Linked DNA regions of Homo sapiens. The protein of the gene in region 1 purifies or fractionates together with the protein of each later gene. This does not show direct contact. Each region holds a gene or a part of one and is shown on either strand. Other genes may lie near its edges. The genes, in order: CDKL4 and POTEI.

What was found.
Region 2: the proteins of CDKL4 (region 1) and POTEI purify together in Homo sapiens (affinity purification with mass spectrometry; 3 studies listed by BioGRID and IntAct, with this or other methods). This does not show direct contact.

What each region holds. Positions count from the first base shown.
Region 1 is NC_000002.12:39,237,285-39,241,111, reverse strand, and holds part of CDKL4 (cyclin-dependent kinase-like 4), read left to right. Parts: intron 1-3,827.
Region 2 is NC_000002.12:130,458,697-130,461,710, reverse strand, and holds the end of POTEI (POTE ankyrin domain family member I), read left to right. Parts: 3' UTR 1-2,256; downstream 2,257-3,014.

The DNA.
Region 1 (3,827 bases):
TCTGCAGTCGAAATTTAGATTTTGCCAATTATCTTAGAAGTATCCTTTATGGTCATGTTGTTCACCAGTCCAGGATCCAGTTCAGGATCACACGTCGCATTTTGTTTTTCCATCTCTCTAGTCTTCAATCTGGAACAGTGCTTTGATCTTTTCTTTCATGACGTTGACATTCTTTATTAAGAGTACAGGCCGGTTATTCGTAGAATGCCCTTCAGTTTGGCCATGTCTATTGTTAACTCATAATTAGATTTAGATTTTGCATTTTTGCCAAGAATACCACAGAGGAGATGTGCCCTTCTCACTTGCACATTTGTCTTTTCTAGAAATTTCCTGTAATGGAATTATAAAATATGTAGGATTTTGTGTCTGTCTTCTCTCACTTAGCATTATGTTTTGGGGCATGTGGTTCTTTTTTCTTTTTTTTTTTTTTTTTTAATGTTCATCTACATTATAGCAAGTTCATTCCTTTTTGTTGCTGAATAGTATTTCGTTGCATGGATAATCCACATTTTGTTTACACATTCATCAGTTGATGAACATTTGGATTGTTTTCCATATAGGGACCTCTTCTGAATAATGGTGCTGTGAACATTTGCTTACATGTCATTGTTAGATCTATTTTAAAATTTTTCCTGGATAGATACTGAGGAGTGAAATTGCTGTTTATGGTTAATTTTTTTTTTTTTTTTTTGAGACGAAGTCTCGCTCTTGTCCCCTAGTCTGGAGTGCAATGGCACAATCTCGGCTCACTGCAACCTCTGCCTCCTGGGTTCAAGCAATTCTCCTGCCTCCCGAGTACCTGGGATTACAGGTGCATACCACCACACCCAGCTGATTTATTTTATTTTATTTTATTTTATTTTAAGTAGAGACGGGGTGTCACCATGTTGGCCAGGCTGGTCTCGAACTCCTGACCTCAGGTGATTCGCCTGTCTCGGCCTCCCAAAGTGCTGGGATTACAGGCGTGAGCCACCACGCCTGGCGGTTAATTTTTAAGTTAAATTTGTGTTTAACTTTTTTTTGAGACAGAGTCTCACTCTGTCACCCAGGCTGGAGTGCAGTGGCACAATCTCAGCTCACTGCAACCTCCGCCTCCCAGGTTCAAGCAATTCTCCTGCCTCAGCCTCCCAAGTAGCTGGGATTACAAGTGTGCGCCACCATGCCTGGCTACTTTTTGTATTTTTAGTAGAGACAGGGTTTCACCATGTTGGCCAGGCTGGTCTTGAACTCCTGAGCTCAAGTGATCCACCTGCCTCAGCCTCCCAAAGTGTTGGGATTACAGGCGTGAGCCACCATGCCTGGCCCTATGTTTAACTTTTAAGACATTGCCAAACTGTTTTCCAATGGAGCTGTGCTGCTTTACATCCTCACCAGTGATTTGTGTGAGTTCCAGTTTCCATCTTATCAACACTTGATATTGTCAGTCTTTGGATTTTAGTCATTCTAATGTGTATGTAATGCTATCTTATTGCAATTTTAATTAACACTTCCCTAATGGCTAACAGCATCCTTTCATGTGCTTAGTAGACATTTGTGTATCTTTGGTAAAATGTCTATTCACATCTTTTGTCCATTTTTAAATTGGGTTGTTTAACCTCCTATTGAGTTGTAAGCATGCTCTCTATGTATTCTGGATACAAATATTTTATCAGATATAAGATTTGCTAATATTTTTCTTTAGTCTGTGGCTTAGCTTTTCATTTTCTTAATGGGGAAATTTTTTGAGGAGCAAAAGATTTTAATGTTGATAAATTCCATTTTATCTATTTTTTCTTTTATGAATCATGCTTATGGTGTCATATCTAAGAAATCTGCATAACTGAAAGTCACAAAGATTTTTCTCCTCTTTTTTTTTTTCTAGAAGTTATACAGTTTTAATGCTTACATTTTGGTCTTTGTCCATTTTGAGTTAATTTTGCTATATTGTGTGAGGTGTCTGTCTACTGTGTGTGTTTGTTGTTTGTTTTGCATATGGATATCCAATGGTCCTAGTATCATTTGTTGAAAAGACTATTCTTTCCTTGTCGAATTGCTGCAGCAACTTTGTCAAAAGTCAGTTGGGCCAGGCGCAGTGGCTCACTCTTGTAATCCCAACACTTTTGGAGGCCACAGCAGGCAGATCACTTGAGGTCAGGAGTTCAAGATCAGCCTGGCCAACATGGTGAAACCCCATCTTTACTGAAAATACAAAAATTAGCTGGGCATGGTGGCACATGCCTGTAATCCCAGCTACTTGGGAGACTGAGGCAGGAGAATCACTTGAACCCAGGAGACGGAGGTTGCAGTGAGCCAAGATTACACCACTGCACTCCAGCCTGGGTGACAGAGTGAGACTCTATCTTAAACAATAAAATAAAAATAAAATAAAATTTTAAAAGTCAATTGACCATAAATAGAAGGGTTTATTTCTTGACTCATTATTATGTTTCATTGATATATGTCTTTATGCTGGTACCACAGTCTTGATTTACCATAACTTTATAGTAAAATTTTAAGTCAAATTTAAGATAAATTTTTAATATAAATATTCTAAATTTGTTCTTTTTCAAAGTTGATTTGGCTATTCTGGGTCGTATGCATTTCCGTATAAATCTTAGTTTCAATTTCTGTCCAAATAAAGCCTGTTGGAATTTGTATAAGGAATTAATTTTGTTTAATTTTGTTCATTTTGGCTTTTTAGAGACAGGGTCTTGCTGCATTGCCTAGGCTAGAGTGCAGTGGCATAATCATAACTCAATGTAGCCTCAAACTCCTGGGCTCAGGTGATCCTCCCGCCTCAACATCCCAAGCAGCTGAGACCACAGGCGAGGGCCACTAGACCCTGGCTAATTATTTTTTATTTTTTTAGAGATAGGGTCTCACTATGTTGACCGGGCTTGTCTCAAACTTTTCGGCTCAAGTAATCCTTCTGCCTCAGCCTCCCAAAGAGCTGGGATTACAGGCATGTGCCACCACTCCTGGCCAGGAATTAGTTTATAGATGAATTTATGAAAAGCTGATATCTTGCTGGGTTTTCAAATCCATGAACATGGCATTTTTCTCCTTTTATTTAGATCTTTAATTTCTTTCAATGGTATTTTGTAATTTTCAGTATGCAGGTCTTGCACTTCAGTTGTTAAATGTATTCCTGAGTATTTTATTCATTTTTACATTAATTTGGATGGAATTGTTTTCTTAACTTTATTTTCAAATTGTTTGTTGCCATTATATAAAAAGATGATTTATTTTGCATATTGATCTTGTATCCTACTTCACTGCAAACTTGGTGATTATTTCTAGTAGACTTTTTATAGATTCATTACGATTTTCTGTAGATAGTATCATGTCATTTCTGAATAATGACAGTTTTACTTTTTATTTTCTTTTTTAAAAAAATATTCATATATATTGAGCACTTCATTTAATAACTATTTATTTTATAGAGATGGGGTTCTTGCTGTGTTACTCAGGCTGCTCTCAAAATTTTGGCCTCAAGCAATCCTCCCACCTTGGCCTCCCAAACTATTGGGGTTAGAGGTGTGAGCCACTGTGCCTGACCTTACTTTTCGTTTTCAATGTATATGCCTTTAATTTCTTTTTCTTGCCTTATTGCACTGACAAGAACTTTCAATACAATGATAAATAAAAATAGTGAAAGCAAACATCTTTTTTCCAGTCTTAGGGGTAACACATTCAATCTTTCATCATTAAGCATGATGTTAACTGTAGATTTTTCACAGATGCCCTTGAGGAAGTCCCCTTGTATTCATCATGAATGAGTGTTGGCTTTTGTCAGATTCCTTTTTTGTGTGTACTAAGGTGATCATGTGATGTTTTTCTTTTATTCT
Region 2 (3,014 bases), about 91 Mb from region 1:
GCCCCTGATCCTGTTCCATCTCACTGGACAGGACCTCCCAACTGGGGCCTCCAGCTACCCCCACCAGCATTCCTTGGCCAATGGAAATGTGAAATGTTCCTGGGACAGAGCTCCCGGAGAGGGGCAGGCCCCCACCTTTGCTCTTTCGGTGACTAGCCATTCTGGCCTGCGGGCTTTGGAGAGCCCAAGCTGACAAGGGGTGGAAGAGGTACCTCAGCACAGCACAGCCACGCTACCAAAACGTGGCCAGACTCTTGTTTACGTCAGTCCCTGACCACATTTCTAGTCAGTGGGTGAAGTCTTTCAACCAGGGTCTCTGGCTACCTTGACTGCTGTTCTCTGGCCGACAGAGGTCTCAGGCCTCCCTGAGTCAGAGCTCCCAGGGGGAGGACCAGATTGTCATCTTTGCTGTTGGGGCGACCCAGGCATTTCAGCCTTAGGGCTTCAGAGTGTCTGAGGCGGACCAGGGGCTGAAGTGAACCCCCAGCACAGCACAGCTGCTCTATAAAAACGTGGCCAGACTTTTCTTTTTGAAGCAAGTCCCTGTTCTTGTTCGTCCTGACTAGGTAAGACTTCTCAACTTGCCTCCAGCCACATCTTATAGGTGTGTTCAGATTGGCAACAGGTTCGTACCTCAGTGGTACAGAGCTTCCAGAGGAAGGGGCAGACTATCATCTTCCCTGGAAAATACAAGGCAATTAGGGACTGGAGGGGACCCCCAGCATACCACAGCAGCCCTACAGAAAAGTGGCCAGGCTCTCTACTTGATGGGCAGATCCTCCTGGCCTGGGTCTCTAGCCAGCCCACCACTGGAGCTATCAAGCCAGTAGCAACTCTGCAGTTCCTGGGACAGAGCTTCCAGGAGCAAATGAAATCCTTTCTGCCACTGCCTCTGCAGTGGAACTGCCCTTGCTGCCCTCAGAAGATGCAAGGGAGCAAAGACCCTAAGTGCCCTATCAACACCTCCAATAAGCTGCAGTTGACCCAAAGAACAAGCCAGTCCATCTCCCACGGGTACCACACACCCTCCACTACTCATCACCAGACAGGGAACCCTGGCTTGGGCCCACAGCACAGACCCTCCATCCTGGGCTGATTACACTAAGTGATTGCTAACTCACATGTCTCTGGGATGGAGCACCCAGGAAACAAGCAAAGTGGTGGAGCAGCAAGTCAGGTGATGTGGAGCCCAGAGGTCAGGGATGGCTGTCTCTCTAGGGTCCACTTGCCCTTGTGAGACACTTTATCCCAGCACTTTAGGAATACTGAGGTCATACCAGCCACATCTTATATGCAAGATTGCCCAGCAGAGATCAGGTCCGAGAGTTCCCTTTTTAAAAAAAGGAGACTTGCTTAATAAAAGAAGTCTAGCCACGTTTGTGTAGAGCGGCTGTGCTGTGCTGGGGGTTCACTTTTGAGAGAGTTCTCCTCTGAGACCTGATCTCTGGAGGCTGGGCAATCTTGCACTTGAGATGGGGCTGGTCTGATCTCAGCACTCCTTAGTCTGCTCGCCTCTCCCATGGCCCCAGCCTGGCCACACCTGCTTACGGGGCACTCTTAGATGCCCACACCATAGCTTCCGTGCTAGTGGACTGTACCATATCAGTGGAGAGCTGCAGCAAGGTGGCCCCTAGAGCCACGCACCAGCCTGCACATTGCCTCTCCATACGGCAGCCCTTTATTTGGAAACTTCCTAAATCACTTTGCTGTGTGTGTTTACACGGGTGGGTTTTGCTTTACTTGCCCTGAGAGCACACAGGAGTGCAGCACACACCCCAACCCACATCAACTGCCATTAAAGAAAAGAAATTTCAGCCCAGAATTTCATGTCCAGCAAAATTAAGCATCATAAGTGAAGGAGAAATAAGATCCTTTTCAGACAAGCAAGTGCTGAGGGAATTTGGTATCACCAGATCTACCTTACGAGAGCTCCTGAAGGAAGCACTAAATATGGAAAGAAAAGATCATCACCTGCTACTACAAAAACACACTGAAGTACACAGTCCAATGATGCTAAAAAGCAAGCACATATGTAAGTCTGCAAAATAACCAGCTGACAGCATGACGACAGGATAAAATCCACACATACCATTACTAACCTTAAATGTAAATGGGCTAAATGCTCCCATTGAAAGACACGGGGCAAGCTGGGTAAAGAACCAAGACCCACTGGAGTATGCCGTCTTCAAGCAACCCATCTCACGTGCAGTGCCATACATAGGCTCAAAATAAAGGAATGGAGAAAAATATTTCAAGCAAATGGAAAACAGAAAAAAGGTGTTGCACTCCCAGTTTCTGACAAAACAGACTCTACCAATAAAGATAAAAAAAGAGAAGGACATTACAAAGGTGGTCCTGACCTTTGATAAATCTCATTATTGCTTGATACCAACCTGGGCTATTTGTATTGCCCAAACCAATAGGATAATTTGCTGAGGTTGTGGAGCTTCTCCCCTTCACAGAGTCCCTGATCTCCGAAAATTTGGTTGAGATGTAAGGTTGATTTTGCTGTACAACTCCTTTTTTGAAGTTTTACTCATTTCCAACAAGGAAGGCAAGTTTTCCTGCTTCCATTGACAAAGGAGAGCAGGCACCTCCTTTCCTGAGTTTCAGCTTGCTTCTGACAGGGAAGGTGAGTGTAAGTTTTTCCAGCTTCTAAGATGGCAGAGAATGATCACCCAGTCTGAGCCTTATTTCCAGGTAAGTAGCTGAATTAGAGTTTTGTCTTAAAATTTTTCCTTAATGACTAAAATTTAAGATTACCCACCAGCTGCTTTTAATTCCTCCTTACCATTAGAACACTCAGTTAATCATATGAATTGTGCATTTGTTTGTTTTGCTTAACTCTTTTTGTTTATGTTTGGGGTTTTATTGTTGTTTCACTTTTCTCCCATCTCTTCCTGACTTGGTCAAATCCAAAGGAATGTTCCAAATTGTGGGGAGCAAGGCATCTGAATTGGCTAAAACTCCTGGGGCTGCAAAACAAAAACAAAAACAAAACAAAACAAAAAAAC